Linked DNA regions of Homo sapiens: region 1 is linked to region 2. Evidence: fine-mapped expression QTL. A gene starts in region 2. The other region holds a variant in brackets. All regions are shown on one strand. Distances are from middle to middle.

Region 1 (5,377 bases), 36 kb before region 2:
GATGGGGTTTCACCATGTTGGCCAGACTGGTCTTGAACTCCCGACCTCAAGTGATCCTCCTGCCTTGGCATCCCAAAATGCTGGGATTACAGGGATGAGCCACCTTACCCAGCCAAAAAATATGTTTTAAAAAGTAACTTAAATTTCGCCTACTTCAGAACTGAAATGGCTCCAAACCATTAATAATAGAATACACATATGTATAAACAAAGCCGAAGGTTTGAGGCGTGCACGTTAGCACACACTGCACACAGATGTGTACACGTATGCTTCACCATGCTTCCAGAGGAGTGGGGTTGTGAGTGCCCTAAAGCCTAATTGAGAGAAATTGTTGGGGACTTTATGTGAAATGATGAGAAAGAGGATGATCTGAGAAGGGAACAGTTTAACTGAAGCAAAGGCAATGAGCACCCAACAAAAAGAGGACTCTCCTTTCAAAATTGAGAAAGGAAAAGGTCTCGTCCTTCACAGAAACTCCTTTTCTTCTAAGACCAAAGGTGCCCCATTAATATACAGCACTTACCTCTGCGGAGTTTCAGAGGGTGCATCTGCAGTGTGGGCTTTAGTGAAGATTTGGATTATTAACATGCAAATTAATAATAATAATTCCTGCCCCTCGAATTGCACTTCTTTCTGAAAGGCCTCAAAGAGCTTTACTGTTTACCATTCCACACAAAATGCTGCTTTCTCTAATAACACTGTGAGGTATAAATGGCCACAAAACAGATATAAAAAGGAAACAATTTAAATACAGTCACTATCACAGGTGCATTTGGGATGGGAAATGTATTTGGTCGGATAAATTGTTATCAGTCAGCTTTTCCCTTCTTTTCTGCTTTTTTTAAGCCACCAGAAAAACCCAGAGTAAGTTACCATGAAAAGCTATAATAATGCTAATTTTGTTCCCATTTCCTGGCTTTTTCCACTAGACTTGAGGCTTTTTAATATGACTTTAAAATTATTTTTCCCATTAATAATAGCCTCTCTTTTGTGCTCTGCTCTTTTGAAGTTGTATTATTATTTACCTCTATGACTGACTATGGCATATTTGCTGTTTAAAATCGACTCCTAATGCATGAAAGCACATTCCCAAGGGCCACGCTGTCCACCCTGAAGTTTAAAAGCTTCCAAAAATGAGAGGGGATGCATGATTCTGAATGGAAACATTCGGGGCAGCTTGCCCTGAAGGCTCCTTGGGTGTAGGCAGATCTGGACTGTGGAATGAATTTAAATGAGGAGGCATGCATGGGATCTGTCACTTGCTGCCTGCAGCCCGGGTGACAGCCTGGGCACCCACGGAACCCACACATGTGGTGATCACCCACTGCAGGTAGCGATTTCCTGTGTATCCCTGCCTGAGGCCCCCTTCCCCACTCCCCCAGCTTGACAACACCTGCTTTTTAACCTAAAGGGGTCCCCAAAGATACATAGATGCTGAGCTATGATGTTGAGGGAATCTGTTTCCCAAATGCTAGATTTGAGGAACACAGGGAGCAGCCAGTCAAGACATGAGAAGACTTAATTCTCATTAAGTCAACTTCCTGTGGCCACGTTGGCCAGGTCCTGCTTATTAGAGGTTCTGAATGGTGGCTACACAGGCCCCAGACCCCTGAATTGGGAAAGAAGTTTGTTTCCTTAGTAAACATAGCTTGTATGGTGGGGAAAAAATGTGTTTATTGAATACGTGAATGAATGAGTAAATGAAAAATAAAGGAACTTGTTATTACCCTCCACTGCCACCCTAAGGGGTAAGTACGATAATTATCCCCATTTCATAGATGAGAACACTGAGGATTGGAGAAGGTCTAAGTGCTTGCCAAGATTATGGAGCTGGCTCATGGCAGGGTTTAGATTTAAATCTTTGTCTTACTCCAAAGGCTGGGATTCTCCACTCCCCTTCCAATGTTCTGCTCATTCCCAGCAGCCATATTCCCACCCCCGAGTCCACTCGATTTGGGGTCCATACTGAAATGAAAATAGTAAAGTGATGTTGAGTAATAACAACTAACATTTGCATTGCGCTTACTCTGTGTCAGGCACTGTGCTAAGTGCTTTGCAGATACTAATTAAATACATTTTCACAACCCACCTATGAGGTTGGATTAGAATCACCCTTCACAGATGAGAAGGCTGAAAACAAAAATAGTATTACTTGGCAGCAAGTGGCAAAGACTGGATTCAGCCCTGGGCAGTTTGGCTCCAGAGTTCATGCTCACAGCCTTTGCATTCTCACTGTGATATAGACAGGGGCTCTGGCATACTCTCTCTGCCACCTCATGAGGCTGAGGAATGTCAAGGCTGTCCTTACCAGTTTCTACCAGGACAACAATTTCTCTCTTGAGTTTCCAGGTCAGGGGTGACCCCTGCAGAGATGGCTGTTACACACAGATGGTTT[C/T]AGCCATGTGCCTCTGGTATGAGCCAAACTCTCTGATCCTTGGCATAACCTATGACCTCTGTCGCCATCCTTCTCTTCACGGCCACCTCTGCTGTCCCCTCTGTGCACCTGCAGGTTCCTAAAGCAACCACCCACCTTAGTCACAGGCCCCGGGGAGTCCACGGATGAATCCCTGACAACATCTTGGGGAAAGATCCCACTGGTCTTATTCTCCTGCCTGCCACTTCCTTCCCACGCAGGGAATTAGATCCTAACTCCACAATGCACTGTTCTTGCTGTTTTCTCTCAGGTTGACAGAGCCCGAGTCCTGCTTTCCTGGCCTCAGTGCTGCTGTGGATGAGAAATATCTCAGGGCCCTTTCTTTCTGGCTCTGAGGTTTTCGTAGTTGGCTTGTGTGTTTGCAAATGTGTGTAAGCCCCTTGAGACTAGGAATTCTATCTTATTTACCCCTTAACCTCAGAACCTAGCACAGCATCTGGGTCAGTAGAGGTGCTCCACTGGTGTTAGCTGAATGAGTGAATAAACAAATATAGGAGCTCAATATATTTGAATAATGACAGATGAGGGAGTCCCCCCACCACCCCCCCTCCCTGCCACCACTACCTCTCTACAGCTGACAATTTGGAAGGAATCTCAGAAGCTGGAAGTGTCTTTCTGCACAGGATCAGGTCCCTGTAAACGCATGAGGGTGGGGCATACTGTGTGCACGGAAGCCCCAGCTACATTCAGGGCAGAGCCTCTCTGGTCTGTTTTACCTAAGAAGTCTCCGAGTGCATCTGTCCCAGCAGGAAAGAGATGCCACATTTCTGTGGGGTCTTGAGAAGAGTTTAATGAAGAGGTTATTTCCAACAGAATGGACAGTGTTCCAGGAAACCCCAAAGGCATGATGAAGCCCTGGAGGCTAACAACAGCCGTTGCTACCCTTGTCTGAATGGGCAGGATTAGGGGATTCTATTAGTCTGTTTTCACACTGCTGATAAAGACATACCAGAGACTGGGTAATTTATAAAAGAAAGAGGTTTAGTTGACTCACAGTTTCACGTGGCTGGGGAGGCCTCAAAATCATGGCGGAAGATGAACGAAGATCAGAGGTACATCTTACATAGTGGATGGCAAAGAGAGAGTTTGTGCAGGGAAATTCCCCTTTATAAAACCATCAGATCTCATGAGATTTATTCACTATCACAAGAACAGCACAAGAAAGACCCACCCTCATTATTCAATTACCTCCCACCAGGTCCCTCCCATAATATGTGGGAATTATGGGAACTACAATTCAAGATTTGGGTGGGGACACAGCCAAACCATATCACGGATGATTCTGGAACCCAGAGAGAGGAAAAGAGAGATATGGTGGAAGGAGGACACTGGGCAGGAGCACTGCCACTGCCAACCAGTGGCCTGGGAGGGAGGGAGTTGTAGGTGTCAACATCCTGCCCTCTATCTTATTTCATCCTCCAATCTTCTATGGGCACCTCCTGCTGGCTAAACCTGAGTGGAAGCTGGCCGGCAAGGGAGTTTAATAATGCAGTCCTCAGCATTGTGGAGCAAGAGCAGGGTGAGAATGCTGGAGCATGGGTCTGCAGAGGCAAAGTGAAAATCCAGCAGAGTAGGATGAATCCATGAGCAAAAAGCCTCCTACTATTAAAAAGACAAAGATAACCAACATTGTGAAAGCCGTTATTCTGCATCAACCTTTTTATTTCACAAGGGTGGAGATTGAGGTAGAAAACAAGGACTCAAGTTGATCCATTTGTAAACCTAGAACCCTTGTCACCTGATGGCAAATCCCTAATTTGTCCTCGAGAACATCCTTTGAACTTTCTCTCTTGGATGTACTTCAGAGTCACACGCTTCTCTAAGGACAGCTATTTGCAACCACTTTCTGATTTTTCAGGATAGGTTTCTTAAATCACCTGCCGTAGCCCACTGCCTGCCACTCCTACGCCTGTGAATTTACAGTTCCAGTTAAAGTAACGTCCATGAACAGGGAGGGAACGAAGGCTCTCCCTATCCCTTCAAGCCCCCAAATTGATTTGGCACTCGAAGTCACTGTTATATTTTATACTGAGTCTTCTGAATCAGTTCATTGAATTTTAGCTGTAGCTATATAAAATCCTCTCCAGTGAAATTATTTGGCCATATTGCGGATGGCTCTGCCATAATCCATCAATGCCACTAACTATCTGCAATAAAAAAAAAAATCCTCCTTCTTTTTTCATTGTAATGAATTTTCTAAACTCAGATTGAATCTTGGAAGGTAATTTACTGGCTTTTTAATTTTTAAAAGGTAGCATTTTGTATTTTTTATATGAAGCCCACAAGATGAGTGGTGGCAAATTTTGAATATTTCCTATTCTGAGAAATGTTGTTGAGGATGAGGTGATTCAGGCAACCCTGGCTTGGATTTCATGGAAGAGGAGGATAGACGTGGGGAGGACTTCATGGGAGTCCAGTTTGACATAGACATCTGTGACTTTTTGTAGGTTAGGAGGGAGGAGTTCTCTACATGTATTAGTCCGTTCTCACACTGCAAATAAAGACATACCTGAGACTGGGTAATTTATAAAGAAAAGAGGTTTAATTGACTCACAGTTCAGCATGGCTGGGGAAGCCTCAGGAAACCTACAGTCATGGCAGAAGGGGAAGAAAACATGTCCTTCCTCACATGGCGGCAGCAAGCAAAAAGAGGAAAAGCCCCTTATAAAACCATCAGATCTCATGAGAACTCACTCACTATCATGAGAACAGCATGAGGGTAACCACCCCCATGACTAAATTACCTCTCACCCTGTCCCTCCCATGACATGTGGGGATTATGGGAACAAAAATTTGAGATGAGATTTGGGTGGGGACACAGCCAAACCATATCACTAAGCAAAAAGCAAGGATGAAAATTCAGCTGAGATTCTTTCAATGCATTAGTAAATTAATAAAGGGGGAAAATTAACATAATTTATCCAAAGATTGCAAAAATATTAT
Region 2 (5,377 bases):
CAAACGTCTCAATACTTTGTAACAGGGTGGCACATTTAAGACAAGGGCACCAGGTTTTAAAATGATCCTGTGCAAATGGACTGTCGGATGGGACATTTAATGTACTGCTTTTATCAGGGATAAAGATAGTTGGTGTATGGGTTTATTTCTTCTTTGAAAAAAGTTAACCACAATATAATTAGCTCTCTTTTTTGTCAGTCTGGGCTGCTGTTGATGAGGTGTCTAGAGGCCTTCTGGTATAGGTGCCTAAAAGCTTAAACTGCATTTAATTATTATTATTACTCAATGTCAGGCTACATAAATGAAAAGAGATAAAAAAGAATTGCTTGCAGCTACATTGCCTTGGTTTGTGATTTCATCACATCTCACAAGCGAAGCAGGTTTGAGCTGGCACTTGGGGCATGAAACCTCTAAGGAAAACCCAGGCAGCTAGAGATGCTGTTTCAACCGAGTTGAAAGTCTCCCCACATGCTGGGGAGGGTAGAGGCTTGCCACACTTTGATTTTGCTCCCCAGCTTTATTTTTAAATACCGTAATAACTGTCTGACTTATTTCGGAGAAGGAAAGCAAATAGGGGAAATGGAGTCACAGGGAGAGTGGTCTTAAAGGCACATAGTCTGGAATGCGAAGATTTCTTGGCTCCCAACGCTCATTGATTGTCTGTCCTGCTGCCTGAAATACCAGTGAGGGCGCCAAAGGAGCAGTGGTATATCATGAAGGGCTCAGCTAACTGTGGAAACTGGAATGGGCTTTCCCACCTGAATGCAGGCAGAGAGCAAGGTGCAGACAAGGAGGCTTGAAAGGCAGATGGACCAAGTTCTGCCCACTTTTCCTACAGTCTATTTATCCACAGGTCAGGATGAAAACAGATGGTTTGCCAGAGGGCAATATATTGGCAGACAGTACCTTGCTTTTTAGGCATGAGACGTCAGGCTTAGGAACAAGTGCTTGGCACTGAGTTAATTAACTCTAGACATTCAGCTCAAGGATGACCTTCTTTCTAGCTCCTTAGATTAAAAAGATAATGAGTTAGGCAGCCCAGAATGGTCAGAAGACCAGAAGCTTTAGCTGCATTCTAGCCCCACCTTTTTTTCTGCTGTTCTCTAGCACCTTAGTTTGCAAGCCCCCTAGGACAGGGACCATGGTGTGCAATGTTATTGAACTTCCCCAGGATGAGTGCTGCAGTTGTATACAACAGGCAGAAAACCAATGTGCTGACTAGTATACTGGTTCCTTTTCTTAGCTCCTGGCCAGCCAGTCCGTTGTAAAATTTTCTTTAGATTATGATGCCAGGGACTATTGCTTTTTGAAGGGCTGCCAGGGAGAGTTCAAGCCATTCAGGCCCTTCATCAGTTGTGTCACCATCCATTTCAGTTACCTGTTGATACCTAGCAAATCGCCCTAAAACTTAGTGGCTTAAACTACAACTACTTATTTAGTATGTGATGCTGTGAGTCAGCTAGTTGAGCAAGGCTCAGCTGGATGGTTCTTCGGCTGGTCTCAGCTGGGCTCACTCATGTGCTTGTCATCAGCTGTGCGGGTGGGGGTGGGGGGGCGTGGAGGGGGCGGCAGGCAATGGCCTCACTCACACATCTGGTGATGGTTGACTGTTGGTTGGGAATCCTACCTTAACCAGCAAGCTATTCGGAGCTTATTTACATGGTTTCCAAGAGCAGAAGCAAGAGTTAAATCCTAATGCACAATTGCTTTAAAAGCCTTTTTTTTTCTTTTTTTTTTTTTTTTTTTCTGGTAACACATGTACAAACGTTGCTTTGGTCAAAGCAAGTTACATGACTGAGCACAGAGTGAAAGAGACAGTGGCAGGGCAAGGGACAAAGAAGGGGAATGATTGCTGCCATTTTGCAAACAGTCTATCATGTGCAAAACAAGGCCAAGAACAAACTTTCAAGGTGATACTTCATTCTTAGATTTCCAAGATGCTAGAGCCAGAAGTCCTAGTTGAGTCCCTGTTTCTCCACGTTTCAGGCCTCAGTTTCCCCATCTAATAAATGAGGATAACATCCATTTCACAGGGTTGATCCAGGATCAACAGGGGCTAAAAATTATAAATAAATGTTGGTAATGATGCTTCCACAACTGTACAATGGGTTCACAACTTCTCAACCTACTTGCTCATCTCCACACACAGCGTTTCTGCGAGTACAGAGGGCTCACTATTGATAGTGGTCCAAGAGGGGATTTTAGGTGTCACAGGAACAGCACCTTGAATACGATTGACTTATGTGTGTGATTCACCTTCCCTCTGTCATTCTCTTTCAGTCTTTCCTCTTAGGAGAAGTCTCAGCTTAATGCCAATGCCTTCCCCTTTTGCTAATTATTTTATTTTTTGTAAAGAGGGGGTGTGTCACTTTGTGGCCGAGGCTGCTCTTGAACTCCTGTCCTCAAGGGATCCTCCTGCCTCAGCCTCCCAAGGTGCTGGGATTACAGGCATGAGCCATGGAATGCCACCAGTGCCAATTTGTCTTTGACACCTCTCTCAACCCATGCTAACCATCTCCCTCAGAGTTTTTGGCCCTATTTAGAATTGAATAATGCTTTATTTTCAATTTTTACATTTGCTTTCTATTAATGACAAATGATACGTTAAAAAATATATAAGCAAGCACTAATAGTTTAAAAAACAATGCTAAGTATATAATAAAACGTGGTTCATTCATTCTTGCGTTCAACAAATATTCGTCCAATAAATATATGTAGAGCATCTCCTATGGGCCAGGATCTTGCCAAAGGCACATCTGCGAACCAAGGAAACCCCTGCCCTCGGGGAGCTTGCATTCTAGGCGTGGGAGTCGTGATGGTGGTCGGAGAAGGACTGGATTTGGGGATTTGCTTCTTGCGGGGGACACAGGCCTGCCCGTGGGGCCCGCCTCCCGCGCGGAGAGCGCTGAGGGGTCCGGAGTGACCTGTAGGCTGAGACCCTGGCTTCCCCTTGCCTAGAGGCCGGGCAGGAGGCGCGGAGCCCGAGGTCGCGGGGCTGAGGGCGCGGGGCGGGCCCGGCGGGGCTCGGCTGCGGCCCGGGCTGTGTCTGCGGCCCCGGCGGCCGCGCCCCTCCTCCCTTTCCCTCCGGCGGAGGCTGACGTGGAGTCAACAGCGCTGGCGGCCGCGAGAGGCGGCGGCGCAGCGGCTCGGAGGCGCCGGGCCCTCTCGGGGCCGCGCGGGGCCCGGGCGGCGGCGGCGACGCGACGTCGCGAGGAGGAGGAGGCGGCGGGGGTCCAGGAGGCCGGCCAGCGCATGGAGGAGGAGGCCATGAACGGCGACCGGACTGAGAGCGACTGGCAGGGGCTGGTGAGCGAGGTGAGGCCGCGGCGCCGGCCAGGCGGGATGGGCCGGGCCGAGCGGCCGCCAGCCCCGGGCCCGCGCCCCCAGAGAGGCCGAGCTGGGAGGGACGAGAGGGGGGCGCGCACTCCAAGTGGCCGCGGCTGCCGCACCCGCGCGACCCCGCCAGGTGCGCCGCTCCTCCTGCACTTTCGGGTCTGCGCGGGCGCCACTTTCTTCCGCGCCATCTGGTGTCAGCCTTTGGGGAGGGGCCTTCCCCCCAAGGCAGGGGTTGGCCCTGGATTGGAGGCTGAAGCCCTGGGATCCGGGAGCAGAAGGTGCCAAGCCCCACCTGCCTGCCCGCTCGCCACTGTTGTGGAGCCAAACAATTGGACGCCTGGGACTGAAACGGGAAGGTGGTGCCATGGGGGAGAATCCGAGCCCTGGGGTGGAACCTGGGCCAGGTGGAATTACCTGCGGCGGTGGTTCGAGTTGGGGGAGTTCGGGGGTCCGCTGCAGCCGTTCACTCATTCACTTGCTCAATTCAATCAACACGTGTTTACTGCAGGCCTACCATGTGTAAGGTGGGGAGGGGCATTTATCGAAAAAGTGAAACACAGGTGCAGAAGTGATTCGATTTGTGGAAGCACAGAACACCGTGTCCCCCTGCCCTGCGACTCTTTTGTCATAAACATACCCTGGGGGTCCACTTTCAGGATCCTATGCTGTTTGCTCTTCAGTTCCCCCTAAGAGTTTGCCGGCCTGCCGGGAGAAGCTGCCGGCCTCTCCAGGTGAGAGGGAATGCGGATTTCTCCCTCTCACCTGGAGGCAACCAGGTAAGTTGCCCTGGTTTGCCACCATTTGTGGGGGCAATTCCTGGTGTTACTTACCCATGCCGGGGAATTTCTCCCTTCTGAGAACCAAGCTCCAGCCAAGGCCAACTTGGGGCTTCCTTTTCTTTAATCCTGTGCACACAATGCAGAGTGTATCGGTTTGCTCTTTTCCTTTCCTTGTGGGTTATGGGAAGGGAAACCCTCTACTCCCTCACTCCTTTCATCGTTTTCTGGGTCTCCAGGTCAGTCTGATAATAGTGCTTCATGCCCAGTGTGTGCAGAGCGTTGTGTTTCTGAAGAGGAATGACATGCGGTAGCTCCTGCCCTAGTTTAGTTTGCTCAGCATTGGTCTAGTAGTTGAAAGCTCTCCTAACTGTCTGGTGTTATGATCCATTGTATTGCAGCCTGGCTCCATCTTCTCAAACTGTCAGGCTTTATGTTAAGGGGCAGATCCTCTGGGGACCTTGTTTCTGGTCCCATCAAGAATCATACTTAGTAGTCAAGGAGGCTGGAGGTAGTTCTCCTTAGAAGTCCAGTGTTAGGCCCTTAAATAGCAGCAGAATCTTCACTACTCCAACAATTGCATATCAGGTGCCTGTTAGGAGTCAGTACATTGTGAGGTGCTTGGGATTCAGTGGTGAATAAGACAAAGAACTCCCCTACCCTCAAAGAACTCCTGGGGGTTTCATGATATAGTCTGGGAGGAAGGTCATACCGTAGACAGTGAGAGTGAACTAAAGGATGGAAAGGCTTCAAGTGCTAAATGGCATGGGGTGCCCCTCAGTTGGCTGGGCTTAACCTTCACCTTGCCCTGACCACATTATTGTAACAATAGGCTTCCTCACTAGGCCGTGTGCTTTGTTTGGTTCTTTATTCCAGGGCCTATACACAGAGCTCTGTATGCAGCAGGTGCTCGAAAAATGCTTGTTGAATAAGTCAGTGAATCCTGAAGTAGGTCCTTCAGGAGTTTTCCTGCCCATCCCAGCAGAGTTTCTCCAGAGTAATACCTCCTTAACTTCACAAACATGAGGTGGGCACGTAGCCAGGGGCCATGGGGGAGGTGAAAATGGGTCTAACTTACTTCCCACCTTAATAATAACTAATGACTATTTTTTGAGTGCATCCTTCATATTAAGCATTTTACATGGCCTCATATTCACAATGACATAAGGTAGGAATTCTTTCTTATTTTACAGATAAGGAAACAGTGGCTCAGACAGGCTAAGGAACTTGCACAGAGCCTCACATCTGGTAAGTGGAAGAGGCAG

Evidence for each region. PIP is the estimated chance that this variant, and not a neighbour inherited with it, causes the effect.
Region 1: its variant is fine-mapped to the expression of CCDC149 in whole blood (INTERVAL, PIP 0.92).

Annotation. Positions count from the first base shown.
Region 1 is chr4:24,947,047-24,952,423 of GRCh38, reverse strand. It overlaps a transcript of CCDC149 not described here. Among named protein-coding and RNA genes, the nearest start is that of CCDC149, 37 kb to the right of the region's middle. The variant C/T (reference allele first, on the strand shown) is at 2,396.
Region 2 is chr4:24,910,755-24,916,131 of GRCh38, reverse strand. It overlaps CCDC149 (coiled-coil domain containing 149), which reads left to right and starts at 3,090. Exons shown (of 13, transcript NM_001395273.1): 1 at 3,090-3,315. The coding sequence starts at 3,268.